Regions from separate parts of the Homo sapiens genome. Here region 2 is linked to region 1. A link means that fine-mapping ties the variant in region 1 to the expression of a gene that starts in the linked region. Tissue or cell type: whole blood. Region 1 holds a variant in brackets; the other region holds the start of a gene. All regions are shown on one strand. Distances are between the middles of the regions.

Evidence for each region. PIP is the estimated chance that this variant, and not a neighbour inherited with it, causes the effect.
Region 2: KXD1 starts here. The variant in region 1 is fine-mapped to the expression of KXD1 in whole blood (TOPMed, PIP 0.99).

Annotation. Positions count from the first base shown.
Region 1 is chr19:18,584,044-18,592,142 of GRCh38, reverse strand. REX1BD (required for excision 1-B domain containing) reads right to left here and starts at 3,345. Exons shown (of 5, transcript NM_001100418.2): 1 at 3,243-3,345; 2 at 3,066-3,148; 3 at 2,460-2,730; 4 at 1,210-1,289; 5 at 1-35. The coding sequence starts at 3,341. RefSeq lists an enhancer at 1-494 and a silencer at 2,998-3,517. The variant C/G (reference allele first, on the strand shown) is at 4,334.
Region 2 is chr19:18,554,576-18,562,674 of GRCh38, reverse strand. It overlaps KXD1 (KxDL motif containing 1), which reads right to left and starts at 4,805. Exons shown (of 5, transcript NM_024069.4): 1 at 4,761-4,805; 2 at 518-639. The coding sequence starts at 618. RefSeq lists enhancers at 1-572, 4,197-4,986, 4,987-5,778 and a silencer at 4,547-4,706.

The DNA of each region.
Region 1 (8,099 bases):
GAACCTCGCTGATCGCCTCCATGGTTTTAATTACCCTACAAGAGCGGATGGGAACTATAAATAAAACCCAGATGGGGTGAATTAGCTGCTGCCGCGAAGCTGCAAGAGGGCTGTGGCTGTGGTGAGCCCCAGGCCCTCCTGCCCGCCGCCAAACCTCCAGGCAGCACTAGCAGCAAGAGGGAACACTTAGGTGCTAGGGAGAAGGGGTGGCCCCATAGGTCACAGTGGGCTGAGAGAAAAGGCCATCTGGGCTGGGCATGGTGGCTCACGCCTGTAATCCAGCACTTTGGGAAGCTGAGGCAGGCAGATCACCTGAGGTCAGGAGTTCAAAACAAGCCTGGCCAACATGGCGAATCCCCGTCTCTACTAAAAATACAAGAATTAGCCAGGCATGGTGGCGGGCATCTGTAATCCAAGCTACTTAGGAGGCAGAGGTTACGGTAAGCCAAGACCGCACCACTGCACTCCAGCCTGGGTGACAGAGCAAGACTCTATCTCAAAAAAAAGAAAGAAAAAAGAAAAGAAAATAAAGGACCAGGCGTGCTGGCTTACGCCTGTAATCCCAGCACTTTGGGAGGCTGAGGTGGGCAGATCACGAGGTCAGGAGATCGAGACCATCCTGGCCAACATGGTGAAACCCATCTCTACTAAAATACAAAAAATTAGCTGGGCGTGGTGGCACGCGCCTGTAGTCCCAGCTACTCAGGAGGCTGAGGCAGGGGAATCACTTGAACCCGGGAGGCGGAGGTTGCAGTGAGCTGAGATCGCGCCACTGCACTCCAGCCTGGTGACAGAGTGAGACTGCATCTCAGAAAAAAAAGAAAAGAAAAGGCCATCTTGGTGGGGTGTGTACCATTAGGAGGTTATGAAGTGTGACTTTGTCAAATGTGTGTGTACATGAGTGTGTGTGCTTGGGGGCTGAGGACAGGCATCTGAAGGTCTGTGCTCAGTGGGGCATGTCCAAGCTCCACGGACAGCCACGTGTGCAGGATTGGCATGTGTCGAGGTATACAGCAGTGTCCCAGCAATGCACAGCGAAACTGATGTGAAGTTTCACGGCTGTGCCCTCTGGGGAAGTGTACATCTGAGGGCCACCAGGTGAGAACACCATTGTGCACTGGCAGAGGGTTCCTCTGCTGGCAGCGTCCTGACCGTGCCAACCCTGGTGCAAATCGAGCATAGCCAGGCGGCTTGGGCAGCAGCGCTCACTTCATTTTCAGCTGCTGCATCCGTACAGCGTCCTCCTGCCCCGCCAGCTCTGGCGTCTCCATCAACTGCAGCAGGGCCACCTGGTGGGGGAATGAGCAACACGAAGGATGTCTCCACGAGCAGAACCCACCCCCTGCCCTCCAAGGATGTTCAGGAAAAAACAGAGGCACCCAGAAAGGCAGTGCCCGGGTAGAACCACGAGGGGCAGTGCTTTGTGTAGGAAGAGTCCGAAATTCAGTTTAGAGGCTCTCTCAGAAAGGAGACAGCAGGCAGGCCAGAGGCAGTGCTGAGCGCGATGTGGGCGTGGCCTGGGAACAACAGTGACGTCTTAGCCAGGCATTGGCCGTAGGGGTGGGTTAGGTTGCGCCTCATGGTCCCAGGGACGGGGACCCAGGATAAAAGTAGGCCAAAAAGCCTGGACGCGGTGGCTCACGCCTGAAATCCCAGCACTTCGGGAAGCAGAAGAGGGCGGATCGCTTGAGACCAGGAGTTCGAGACCAGCCTTGCCCATATGGCACAACCCCGTCTCTACTAAAAAAAATACAAAATACAAAAATTATGCCTGTAATCCCAGCTACTCAGGAGGCTGAGGCAGGAGAATCGCTTGAATCTGGGAGGCGGAGGTTGCCGTTAGCCGAGATCGCGCCATTGCACTCTAGCCTGGGTGAGAGAGCAAGAGAGCAAGAGCCTGTCTTAAAAAAAAAAAAAAAAAAAAAAAACACCAGAAAGAAAAAGGCCAAAGAGACGCTGAGACGGGTCGCTCATGGGGGGCGTGGCCTAGGAATTCCAGTCACACACGGTTGCAGGGCCGAGCAGGCGGATCGCAAGAGAGAAATAGGCAAAGAACTAAAGCTGTGATGGAGGAATAATACGGAGGAGGCGTGGCCTGGGACCCCCCTCGCCTGTATCTACGGGAGGTTGAGGGTGGGACCCTAGACGCGGAACAACCAGAGTGGGTGGAGCATTGTTGGGGCGGGATCTGGGCATCTTGGAATAGCATTTAGGCGGAGCTGGGAGAAAGCGGGAGTGCTCTGGGAATAAGGACAAAACTTGGGAAAAAAATTGGGGATGAACAGCAGAGGGCAAGGTCCGAGAATCCCCAAGTGAAGCCTTAATAGAGGATTGGGGTGGGACAGGAAGGGGTGAGGTCTGTGTATGGGATACTGGGACCACCCCCCAACCAGGGGTGCGTCATGAGAGGAGCCGGCCAGGGTCCTAGAGACACGGCGGGGAAGGGGTGGTGGCCTCACCGTGCCCAGCCGCGTCTGCTCCAGCTCCTGCAGGCTGCGCACGTGGCCGGCGAGCAGCGGCTGCCTGCGAGGCCCGCCCAGCTCTGCTTCCACCGCCAGCACCTCCCGCGAGGCGGCGGCGAAGGCCTGGGTCACCCCGTGCACTGTGCTCCGGTAGCGCGCGAAGTCGTAGTCAGGGCCGCTGCGCAGGTACTGGCGGTGGCCTCTGCGGCATGTGGGGACCCTGAGGCCGCGCCCCCAGGCTCTCAGGCCCTGCACCGGCGCCAACCACCTGAAAGGCCCCCAGGAAGTGTCCCCAGACACCAGAGGGGAGGACTGGTAGGTAGGAAGGACGCTTCCTGACTCCCGCAGGGGAACGCGAGACAGGCCCACCCCTGCTCTTGGGGAGGAGAGAGAAGCCACGAAGAGTGAGTCGTCGGGTAGTGGGGACGTGCTGTGGGGCCTTTTTCGTGAAGGTGAGGACCCGGTGCCCCGAAATCCCCGCCCCATCTGACTCTGCAGCCACACAAGGACCCAGCTCCTCCTCCAGGCACGCCCGCCGAGAACACGCCCACGCCCGGAGCGGGCGGGGGACCGAACCCTGAGCCCCTCCGCGCCCCCACTCACTCCTCCAGTCGGCGGAAGCCCTGCGCGCGCTCAGCCTGCAGCTGGTGGATGCGCTGCACCAGCGTCCGGATCGGGGCGTCTTTCTGCGGGACAGGGGGCACGGCTGGGGCATGAAGCCCGCGCCCCTGGGTCTGCGCCGCCCGCCCCGCGCCCGTTCCCGCTTGGGCCTGGGCTCACCCAGGGCCACGCCGGCTCCTCGCGTCCCCGAGCTTCGGTGGCCTCCTCAGCAGCAGGCACTGCAGGGACCGTAGGCTCCGCCGCGGTCTCGGTGATCATGACTGCGCAGCCCTGGCCAGGCTCCGGAGCAGGCCCTTCCGCTGCGCCCGACGCCCCCTACAGGCCGGGAGGTCCACGGACCCCCTACCCTGCGGCCGGCCAGCCAGAAGGAAGAAAGGGGAACCAAGACCGCGGGCCGCCCAGTCAAGCCCACCCTTCTTGTTCCCGTCCAGGGCCCGCCTCCGATCGTGTTTTTCCTTGATTGTGCGGCTCTGAATACAGAACAGCTGTTAGCCTTGAGTTCGTTCCTATGCTTGTATCTCAACACCGACTTCCACTTGAAGCGGGTACTGAGCGTGGGTTTTGACGTTCAAGAGTGTTAAGTAAGCCTGGGCAACCTAGGGAGGCCCGATCTCTACAGAAAAACCAATTAGCCCGACATGGTGGCTCCCGCCTCCAGTCCCAGCTACTCGGGAGGCTGAGGTGGGAGGATTACATGAGCCCGGGAGTTGGGGGCTGCCATGAGCTATGACCATGCCACTGCACTCCAGCCGGAGCCACAGTGAGTCTGCCTCAAAAAAAGTGCAGTGGCTGGAACTCCACCAACATTAACAGAGATTCACTGGCTCTTCAGAGAATCACAGGGGTGAAGACAAGATTCAGTGACAGGGACGGTGTCAACAGCCCACCGAGTTGAATTGGGTGTCTTGTGTAATAGCCCTGAGCCTGGAGCATAGCAGGGGCCAGAACGACCTCAAAGTACAGAGGAGGCCTTGGAGCTTCCTGCTGGAGGGATACATGGGCTAGACAGAGCTTTGGAAAGCTTCCTCCTCCAGGGGCCCAGCCGGAGGAGCAGGAAGATGCTGGTAGCCTGACTTAGTGAAGAGGGACCAGCTCAGGTATGGGGTGACAGACACCAGCCTTTAAGGGGGAAGGGACTAGGCTGTTAGTGAGTTGGGAGTTTTTCTTGCCGATGGGTTCGTGGTCTCGCTAACTTTGAAGAATGAAGCTGTGGACCTTCGCGGTGTGTGTTACAGATCAAAAAGAGTCCA[C/G]GGACCAGGAGAGTGAGCAGCAGGGCAGTTTATTGAACAAAGCGAAAGGAAAGCTTCCACATGCTGGAAGGGGACCCGGAAGGGTTGCCGTTGCTGGCTCCGGTGGCTAGGGCTCATATCCCTATGTTACCCCTCCCCTTTCTTTTTGTCCATTGAGAGTGGTTCTTTTTTCAATCCTCCTCTGGAGTGTTTTTTTTTTTTGTTTTTTTTTTTTTTTTTTTTTAGTGAGACAGAGTCTCGCTCTGTCGCCCAGGCTGCAGTGCAATGGCACGATCTCGGCTCACTTCAAGCTCTGCCTCCCGGGTTCACGCCATTCTCCTGCCTCAGCCTCCCCAGTAGCTGGGACCACAGGCGCCCGCCACCACACCCGGCCAATTTTTTGTATTTTTAGTAGAGGCAGGGTTTCACCGGGTTAGCCAGGATGGTCTCAATCTCCTGACCTCGTGATCCGCCCGCCTCGGCCTCCCAAAGTGCTGGGATTACAGGCGTGAGCCACCGCGCCCGGCCTGGAGTGGTTAATTCTGAATCCTTCACTCGATTGGTTAAGAACTCAAAACACTGAGTCACAGGGGTCTTCTGTGAAAGTCCCCAAACCTGCCCAGTAAATCCTGCCAACTCCACCCCTCAGTCCCCTCTCTCAACAGGAGAGCCCAACTGCTGTTGGGGTGTGGGAGGATGACCACTCTAATTGCTTCCTGCTGAATAGGGGCATAGAAGGGGTTCTGTAGCTGAGGTTTCCTCGTGAGAGGTGGTTTGGGTGTCAACGTCCGGGTATGGGCCGGCAGGCTGGTTTAGGGGTCCTTGATAATAGGTGCTGGTTGAAGTCATCTGAGGTTCCATCTGCAGTAACATTTCTAGTTTCATTGATTCTATTCAGGAAGAAACGAAAGGATGAAGGAACTGAAAAGACATGGGCCAAAGGTTACTCCTAGAATAATCATAAGGAAGGGACCTAAAAATGGAAGAAGCCAGTGGAGAACAGGCTGTGAGAACCCTGAGGTAGTTTCGGTTGTCCCACCATGTAGTCTGCTAGCTCTATCCTGAAGTCATTTAATTCCATCTCTCACTATGCCTGATTTATTGACATAAAAACAACATTCCTTGTTCAGAAAAAGGCATGTTCCTCCCCTTTCGGCAGTGAGGAGATTGGAGATCTAGTGCTCACTGGTTCTGGAGAACCACAGCTGCTAATGAGTCTATTTGGTCCTGGATTTGAGTAAGTTGGAGAGAGATTTCATCTAGGCTGTGAGTCCACTTCCTAGGTGGTAGTAAATCCTAAACCAGCCAATAGAGGAAGTAGTGAGATTGCTCTCGGCTGAAGCTTAGCATGAATGGGCACAGCTACTGCCTCTTCTGAAAAGGAATAAGTCACAGGAGGTACTATGTAGGCTAAAGTACAAGTTCCTGTCCAGTTGGTGGGGAGGCAAATATAGAAGGATCTTCCACACACAAAGAAAACTCCTTATCAGGGTTCTATACACCCCTGTAGCTGAAAACTCATAAGGGCTGTGGTCAGTCTAAATTCATTTCTCATTCCCATGATTTGAGGGTTCAGGACAAATGGGCCACTCCTAGCAGTTGGAGCTGAATAGAATTTGCCAAGGACGTATTATGGGGTTCCTGTAAGGCAAACCGGTGGCTAGCTGCATTAAGAAAAACTCTCGGCTGGGTGCAGTGGCTCACGCCTGTAATCCCAGCACTTTCGGAGGCCAAGGCTGGTGGATCACGAGGTCAGGAGATCAAGACCATCCTGGCTAACATGGTGAAACTCCATCTCTACTAAAAATACAAAAAATTAGCTGGGTGTGGTGGTGGGCGCCTGTAGTCCCAGCTACTCGGGAGGCTGAGGCAGGAGAATGGTGCAAACCTGGGAGGCGGAGCTTGCAGTGAGGGAGATCGCGCCACTGCACTCCAGCCTGGGCGACAGAGCGAGACTCCATCTCAAAAACAAAACAAAACAACAACAACAAAAAGAAAAACTCGCGCACCCCAGACAGGAAGCAGGAAGCAATGGGGTTTTTTTAACCCTTTGCCTGTGAGAGAGGAACCAAGTCCCAGGAGGGGGATATCCTGGGCAAAAGGAAGTCTGCCCCAGCAGTAATTGCTTGTTGTTTTGGCCTCTGGTGGGGGAATTATTTGGCTTGGGGTGGTAAATCTTAAGGGATAGGTGACTGAAATAGGGTTTCCAAGGAACTCATGTTTATTTCCACAAAACATTGGGGTGCCAGTAGTCGTACTGTAAGAATTAGAATATTTGAACTCTATATCCAAGGCAAGCTATAGTTGCAGCCAGCCACGTGTCCCACACCTTGTGATCATGGGAACACTTGATGGGAGATACAAAGGAGTGGAGGCGAAGAGAAGGAGGTTATTGTGCCCACAGAACCTATGATTGGGATAGCTGATAGAGCGAATTGTCGGAGAATGGCGGCGGCTGCTTTTAAGGCTGCTTGAGCCCTGTCAGGGAAATTGGACCTATCACTAGGATGAAAAAATCCTGGACCCTTAGAAGTGTTAGCTATGTATGAGGCCTCAGAGCTTTCCACCCATATGTTGAGGGGGGCCGGAACTGCTGTATATAAGGGGGAAATTAGGGTTCATGCAAACCCAACAGGATGAGTTACTCTGATTGGGAAGTGCTTCAAATAAAAACCTGGAGGACATGTTTATAATTCCCTCAAGGTAGGCCGGGCACGGTGGCTCACGCCTGTAATCCCAGCACTTTGGGAGGCTGAGGAGGGCAGATCACGAGGTCAGCAGATCGAGACCACGGTGAAACCCCGTCTCTACTAAAAATACAAAAAATTAGCCAGGTGTGGTGGTGGGCGCCTGTAGTCCCAGCTACTTGGGAGGCTGAGGGAGGAGAATGGTGTGAACCCGGAAGGCAGAGCTTGCAGTGAGCCGAGATCACGTCACTGCACTCCAGCCTGGGCGACAGAGCGAGACTCTGTCTCAAAAAAAAAAAAAAAAAATAATAATAATAATAATAATTCCCTCAAGATTAGGGGAAGACATTGAGCGGGGAAAGGTTAAGACTTGGGCAAAGGCAAGGAATGTTAGGATGTTAGAGTACATTCTGTTTTTAAAACAAGAACTGAGGTAGAACTTATGAGCACTGATTAATTTTCCTTCTGAAAGAGGATACATAAGTCTTCCAATGGCTCGTGGGTGTAAGAAGGTTTGTCTGGCTGACTCTTAGATTCCCAAGCTAATGATTCTGCGGGTTTTTCAGGCTGTATCCAAGGTTTGATTCAGGTGTGATGGATCCAAGACTCCACTCCAATCACCTTGACTGCAGTTGGAGTGGAGAGGATAACCAAATATGGTCCTTCCCACGATGGATCTAGGGATGGGGAGGTAGAGGGGAGGGACTTGACTAATACTAGATCCCTGGGATGGAACGATGCTTTTCCCTTTTCTCGGTGGCATCCCTCGGGTAATGTCTTTAGGATTTGCTGGTACCTAGCCAAAGAAGTTATGTCCTTGACCAAGTTGGCAGTTTCTCAATCAAGTAAGAGGTTGTTTGTGAGAAAAGGCTGTCCATATAGCATTTCATAAGGACTGAGTCCTATCTTGTGGGGAGAATTTAGGATCCTTAATAATGCTATGGGCAAGAGGGTGAGTTTCCATGGGAGGTGAGTTTCTTGTGTTAATTTCCTTGAGTGCCTTTTGAGTGTTTCATTAATCTTCTCGACTTTCCCTGAGGATTGTGGTCCCTGGGCGCAATGAAGGTGATTTTTTTTTTTTTTTTTTGAGGGAGTCTCGC
Region 2 (8,099 bases), 29 kb after region 1:
GCCTGACCAACATGATGAAAGCCCGTCTCTACTAAAAATACAAAAATTAGCTGGGCATGGTGGCACATGCTTGTAATCCCAGCTACTCAGAGGGCTGAGGCAGGAGAAATCGCTTGAACTCGGGAGGCGGAGGTTGCAGTGAGGCAAGGTCACACCATTGCACTCTAGCCTGGGCAACAAGAGCAAAACTCTGTCTCAAAAACAAGAAACAAATAAACAAAAAAACCTGCATGTGGCCCCCTCTGGTCCTTCAACTCTCCCACCCCAGGTCTCGGGACAGGAGCCCCTGCGGCCCCCGCCAAGCCATCCGCAGCTGCAAAATCTCCCCAAAGCCCTGCTTCCTGTGCCAAGGCCTCGCCTCCAGGCCGGGAAGGAATTTACTTTGGAGCCAGCGACAGATTTGCTCATTTCCTTCATTTTATCACCAGTGTGGGCCCCGGGTAGGGGCGGGCAAGACAAGAATGTTGGCCAGCCTGTGGATTCCTTCCCACGCTCAGGTCCCCCAGCCGCCACTCACATGTTCTTCTGGGCCAGGATGATGGCGTTGACATCATCTGTGTTCACCATGCTCAGGATGCGGCCGCAGAAGACCCTCGAGGCCGAGTCCGGGAGGTCCATCTCTTTCTCCTCCTCCGCTGCCTGAAACAGGCAAGAACAGAGTGGTCTGCACTAGTCACCAGGTGAGGTGGGACCAAGAGGCCAGGCCGGGACCGCCATGTGCTGGAACCTAACCCAACCGTGGTGGTATCCTACAGTGGGGATGTGTGACTGTGGCTCAGTCATGCCACCTGAACCTCAGGTGTGCCACCCCAGGAATTTGGAGGTATTGGGCAAACTAAGAGAGGTTGTATTTGTAAACTGTACCCAAGCACATTAGAATCCCATCACCTCCCACTTCCATGAGCCCAAGGCCACAGGTACCTCTCACCTGCACAGATCTGCCAGCTTCCTCCCTCATCCCCTGCCTAACAACTGCTGTCCTCACAAGCTGAACGTGTGTGGCTGCTTCAGCAAATCATCACCACCTCCAATGTCTCCTCTCCCAAGAGGTCAATGACTCCTGTTCCCGTCACTCTTACCGCTTCTCTTACTACTTGACCTCGTTTTTTTATTTCTTTTTGATACAGAGTTTCACTCCTGTCACCCAGGCTGGAGTGCAATGGCGCGATCTTGGCTTAGCGCAACCTCCGCCTCCCAGGTTCAAGCGATTCTCCTGCCTCACCCTCCCAAGTAGCTGGGATTACAGGTGCCCGCCACCACGCCTGGCTAATTTTTGTATTTTTTAGTAGAGACGGGGTTTCACCATTTTGGCCAGGCTGGTCTCGAACTACTGACCTCAGGTGATCCACTCGCCTCAGCCTCCCAAAGTGCTGGGATTACAGGCATGAGCCACCGCGCCCAGGCTACTTTACCTTGTTTTTGTTTGTTTGTTTGTTAAGAGACAGGGTCTCGCTATGTTGCCTAGGCTGCTCTTAAATTCCTAGGCTGACACGACCCTTTTGCCTTGGCCTCCCAAAGTGCTAGGATTACAGGCCTGAGCCACTGCGCCCAGCCACCCTTTACCTTGATTTAACTGCTTCACTGGTTCACCTCTTCATGAAATTATCCTAGTTATCAGCTAACCCGTTTGCCTGTCACCGCCACAACGTCAGCTCCAAAAGAGCAGAGGTGGCCAGGTGCTGTGGCTCACGCCTGTAATCCTAGCACTCTGGGAGGGCGAGGCAGGTGGATCACGAGGTCAGGAGTTCGAGACCAGCCTGGCCAACATAGTGAAACCCCATCTCTACTAAAAATACAAAAATTAGCCAGGCATGGTGGTGGGCACCTTTAGTCCCAGCTACTCGGGAGCTTGAGGCAGGAGAATCACTTGAACCCAGGAGGCGGAGGTTGTGGTGAGCCAAGACTGTGCCACTGCACTCCAGCCTGGGCAACAGAGAGACTCCGTCTCAAAAAAAAAAAAGAAGGAGTAGAGGTGTGTCTGTCACCAGAACCCGACCCGGAGTCTGGCTCATAGCAAGGGGCTGCCAGAATGTTGTTGTGGGGAAGGGCAACAGAACTTTTCAAACTCAGCTCTGACGTGACACTTTTATTAGCAAATTAAAGCCAAGAATTGCAGGTACTCACAGCCAACCTGTGGGCCCCAGCAATCCAGATGGTTCTGAGGTTCCCAGTTTTGCTGGCACACAGATGACCGTAATGGCAGGCAGGGACTTCCCGGAGCAGCCAGGGTAGGAGGGGCTACAGCACTGACCCTCCTAGGGAGTTCAGGAAAAATCTAGGATCTTGATATAGTTTGGCTCTGAGGCCCACACATTTAATAGCCAAGAAACAGAGACGAACTTCTACTGGATCAGAAAGGGTTTCAGAGGCCGGGTGTGGTGGCTCACGTCTGTAATCCTAGCACTTTGGGAGGCCGAGGTGGGCAGACTGCTTGAGGTCAGGAGTTCAAAACCAGCCTGGCCAACATAGTGAAACTCAGTCTCTACTAAAAATACAAAAAAAATTAGCCGGGCATGGTGGCGGGCACCTGTAGTCGCAGCTACTTGGATGGCTGAGGCAGGAGAATGGCTTGAACCTGGGAGGCAGAGGTTGCAATGAGCCGAGATCATGCCACTACACTCCAGCCCGGGCGACAGAGTGAGACTCCATCTCGAAAAGAAGGAAGGAAGGGAGGGAGGGAGGGAAGGAAGGAAGGGAGAGAGAGAAAGAGAGAGAGAAGGAGAGAAAGAGAGAGAGACAAAGAGAGAAAGAGAGAGGAGAGAAAGAGAGAGAGACAGAGAAAGAGAGAAAGAAAGGAAAGAGAAAGAAAGGGTTTCAGAGCTCACTTAATGTACTCTCCCATTTATTCAGCAGCTACTCTATGCTAAACAAAGCATCAAGCTCATACATACTGTTATCATTCTTATTTATAGATGAGAAAACTGAGGCTCAGGGACACTGAGAAACTGGGCCACTGTCACACAGCCAGTGAACCTAAGTCACAACAAACGGCCACAGCCCACGGGTCTCACAAAGGTGTGAATCTGAACAGGTGCACAATATCCAGCTGTGACAGGACAGTGGCTTCTTACAGCAGCTGATTTCTGCCTGACTTCTGATGTTTCTCCAGGAAAAAGGAAACAGGGATTTTTTTTTTCTGGGAAATTGCCTCATTGACAAATGTCAGCAATCAATACTTTTTTCCAAGATATCATGGAGGCCAAGAGCATCTATTTGTGATCTGTATCTGGTCAGTGGTTTGCAGCACCTTCTAGAAATAAGGTGCCACACCCAGCAAAACCCCCTTCCCTCTAATAATAACTATGGTTATTGAACTCCTATGACATGCCATGCAGAGACACCCAGTCTCCACATTCCCAAAGAAGCATGATCTTGTATAAAGAGGATACCTGGACCGGGTGCTCATGCCTGTAATCTCAGCACTTTGGGAAGCCAAGGCTGGTGGATCACCTGAGGTCATGAGTTCAAGACTAGCCTGGTGAACATGGTGAAACCCCCGTCTCTACTAAAAATACAAAAATTAGCCAGGCATGATGGCGGGCACCTGTAGTCCCAGCTACTCAGGAGGCTGAGGCAGGAGAATCGCTTGAACCCGGGAGGCAGAGGTTGCAATGAGCCAAAATCAAGCCACTGCATTCTAGTGTGGGCTACAGAGGGAGACTTCATCTCAACTGAAAAAAAAAAAAAAAAAAAAAAAAAGACACCTGGAGAGGGAGGCCCATAGCTAGTACCAGTGAGACACAGTACTGGGACCTTCTGGGATACACTCCTCCTTCAAAACAGGACTCTTTTCTGTCTCTGGCTCCCAGATGTGAGGGCTGAGGGGTTCCTGGCACCTCCCTCCCGTCCCCCCGCAACTTCCTCTCCCAAGAAGCCTTCCCTGATTACTGCTAGTCTGGCCCACATACACAGTGAAATTGACCCAGCAAGAGCTCTGATCCCAACTCCAAATGTAGATTTATTGAAGAAACGCAGAGAGGTAGGCTGTTTGACCATGGGAGAGCCACTTCACCCTTCTGAATCAGTTTTTTCAACCATAAAATGAAAATAAGGTAGAATGAAGATCTCACAGTGCTGTCTGTGGCAACTGAAACCAAAGGTGATAACGACTGGAGCTCAGGACAGGCTGTTTCTCCAAGAGGAGTGTGAAGAAGTCCCGGGAATCAACATTTTGAGAGCATCCCAGGGGCCTCTAAGAATATATTACGGGCAAACACTTGTAGAGCACTTCATTTCATCCTCAATCACCGTTACGAGGCAGACACAATCATCTCCGAGTGAAACTGAGGCTCACAGGGGCGGGCTCCGTTGCCGAAACTCACAGGGAGAGGCAGAGAAGCACCACGGTTCTATATCCAGGTTATTTAACAGAATTTAACTCAGCCATCCAAGCTCTGAAAAACCCCAAGTGGGGAGGGGCTCAAATATCCCCTCACGCCCCGTCCCCTACAATACAGGGAAACTGAGGCACAAACCGGGCAACGCCCAGCTCCAGGTTACACGACACACCCAGAACACAGGAGGCCCCAATTCCTATGCCCCTGATCCGGATCCAGATCCAGCCCGTAGCGCCGCCTGCGTATCCATTGAGCAGACGGGGAAACTGAGGCCTGTGCGCAGCAGGAATGACCAGATGTGGCCAGTGGCGCACCCCACCCCACCGCAGCCCGGGGGCCGCGCCCGACCCGGACCGGTTCCCCGCGGCCCTGGAGTCCCCAGCCCCACCCCAAACTCGGCCCCGGCGTCGGTAGCGGCGGCACCTGCACATCTGGCGGCCTTGCTCGCGCTTCCGGGATGGCGCCCGCGCCGGCGAAACGTCACCACGCACCGATCCTGCGAGCGCGCGTGGCGGGGACGTACCCTGGAGCCGCTTGCGTGCGTTAAGTCACGACAGGAAAGGGCGGGGCTTAGACGGAGCTTCAGCTCGTGGGTGCATCACAATGAATAGCCAATCAAACAATTCATCTCGCGCCTGCGTATTTCCAGAAGCCCAGGCTTGAAAGCGGCCCGGAAGAAGGAAGGCTGAGAGAAGTGTCCCATTTTGTAGATAGTGTGACTGAGGTCCCAGAGTGGTAACCCTCCCCAAGGTCGTAAATGCTACAGTGGTCAGAGGCCAAACCACACTCAGGTGTCCTGCTTTCCAAGCAGGGAATTAGACTCATCTGTGTTCAGACATCCCTGCTCCACTTTTGCTGATTTTTTTGGTCCAAGTTTCCTTTTTTTTTTTTTTTTTTTTTTTTTGAGACAGAGTTTCGCTCTTGTTGCCCAGGCTGGAGTACAATGGCGTGATCTCGGCTCACCGCAACCTCCGCTTCCCAGGTTCAAGCGATTCATCTGCCTCAGCCTTCCGGAGTAGCTGGAATTACAGGCATGTGCCACCATGCCCGGCAAGTTTTGTGTTTTTAGTAGAGACAGGGTTTCTCCATGTTGGTCAGGCGGGTCCCGATCTCCCGACCTCAGGTGATCTGCCCGCCTCGGCCTCCCAAAGTGCTGGGATTACAGGCATGAGCCACCGCGCCCAGCCCTGGTTTCCATTTACACTTCCACGTTGTTTTGGAGTAATGCGCTGGGGAATTTTTTCAAAAGGGTTTACAGGCTGGGCGCGGTGGCTCACATCCTGTCATTGTAATCCGAGCACTTTGGGAGGCCGAGGCGGGCGGATCACGAGATCAGGAGTTCGAGACCAGCCTGACCAACATGGTGAAACCTTGTCTCTACTAAAAATAAAAAAAATTAGTCGGGAGTGGTGGCGGGAGCCTGTAATCCCAGCTACTCAGGAGGCTGAGGCAGGAGAATCGCTTGAACCCAGGAGGCAGAGGCTGCAGTAAGCCAAGATCGCACCACTGCACTCCAGCTTGGGCGATAGAGCAAGACCACGTCTCAAAAAAAAAAAAGAAGGTCAAGCTAAAAAATGAAGAAAATGTATTTTAAGTTCATGTTAGTTTGTGTATACGAGTACCAAGTTTTTGTAATAAAATGCCTCACAGCTACAATTGGAAAAAAAAAAAAAAACGGGCCTGTGGCCCGAGCCTGTGGTCCCAGTTTCTCAAGAGGCTGAGGTAGGAGTATCGTTTGAGGCCAGGAGGCAGAAGTTGCAGTGAACGAAGACCCCACTCCAGCCTGGGCAACAGAGTGAGACCCAGTCTCAAAAAACAAACAGGCCCGGCGCAGTGGCTCACGCCTGTAACCCCAGCACTTTGGGATGCCAGGCGTGTGGATCACCTGAGGTCGGGAGTTTGAGACCAGACTGGCCAACATGGTGAAACCCCGTCTCTACTAAAAATCCAAAAAAAAAAAAAAAAAATTAGCCTGGCGTGGTGGCAGGTGCTATAATCATAGCTACTCAGGAGGATGAGGCATGAGAATCTCTTGAACCTGGGAGGCGGAGATTGCAGTGAGCCGAGATTGTGCCACTGCACTCCAGCCTGGGTGACAGAATGAGACTTTGTCTCAAAAAGCAACAACAACAACAACAACAAAAATCGCTATAAACTGATGTGGATTAATAAATCCACATCATTATAATTATAATTATTTCCTTTCCTGCCCCTTTAAATTAGCTCCTGGCTGGGTGCAGTGGCTCACGCCTGTAATCCCAGCACTTTGGGAGGCCGAGGCGGGCGGATCATGAGGTCAGGAGATTGAGACCATCCTGGCTAACATGGTGAAACCCTATCTCTACTAAAAATACAAAAAATTAGCCAGGCGTGGTGGCAGGTGCCTGTGGTCCTAGCTACTCGGGAGGCTGAGGCAGGAGAATGGTGCAAACCCGGGAGGCGAAGCTTGCAGTGAGCAGAGATCGAGCCACTGCACTCCAGCCTGGGCGACAGAGCAAGACTCCGTCTCAATAAATAAATAAATAAATAATAAATAAGCTCCTGTGTCCTTTTAATATGTCGCCACCATTCTCTGAGCATTATTTATCTTGGGCTCCACAACATGATCCAATGCTGTGTAAAATCCCTGGAATCAGCCATTTCTCCAAGGAACCTGGTTCCTTTGCTTCAAGAGTAGGATTTAGAAACCAAGATCAGTCGGGGCTCAGTGATTCACGCCTGTAATCCCAGCACTGTGGGAAGCTGAGGTGGGCAGATCAGGAAGTCAGGAGTTCGAGACCACCTGGGCCAACATGATGAAACCCCCCCATCTCTATTAAAAACACAAAAAAATTAGCCAGGCATGGTGGTGGGCACCTGTAATCCCAGTTACTCGAGACACTGGAGAATCACTTGGAACTGGGAGGCAGAGGTTGCAGTGAGCTGAGATCACCCACTGCACTCCAGCCTGGGCAACAAGAGCGAAACTCTGTCTCAAAACAAAAAAGAAAGAGGCCGGGTGTAGTGGCTCACTCCTGTAATCCCAGCACTTTGGGAGGCTGAGGTGGGCAGATCACCTGAGGTCGGGAGTTCGAGACCAGCCTGACCAACATGGAGTAACCCTGTCTTTACTAAAAATACAAAATTAGCCAGGCATGGTGGCACATCCCTGTAATCCTAGCTACTTGGGAGGCTGAGGCAGGAGAATCGTTTGAACCTGGGAGACAGAGGTTGCAGTGATCCGAGATCACACCACTGCACTCCAGCCTGGGCAACAAGAGCGAAACTCCATCTCAAAAAAAAAAAAAAAAAAGAAAGAAGGAAAGAAAGGAAGGGAGGGAGGGAGGGAAAGAAGGGAAAGAAAGAAAGAAATTAGCCGGGTGCTGTGGCTCATGCCTGTAATCCCGGCATTCTGGGAGGCCGAGGCGGGCAGATTACCTGAGGTAAGGAGTTTGAGACCAGCCTGGCCAGCATGGTGAAACCCCGTCCCTACTAAAACACACACACACACACACACACACACCACACACACACAATTAGCTGGGCATTGTGGTGCACACCTGTAGTCCTAGCTACTCGGGAGCCTGAGGCAGGAGAATTGCTTGAACCCAGGAGACAGAGGTTGCAGTGAGCCAAGAACACGCCACTGCACTCCAGCCTGGGCAACAGAGCAAGACTCCATCTCAAAAAAAAAAAAAAAAAAAAAAGGCCGGGCACGGTGGCTCATGCCTGTAATCCTAACACTTTGGGAAGCCAAGGCAGGCAGATTGCCTGAGCTCAGGA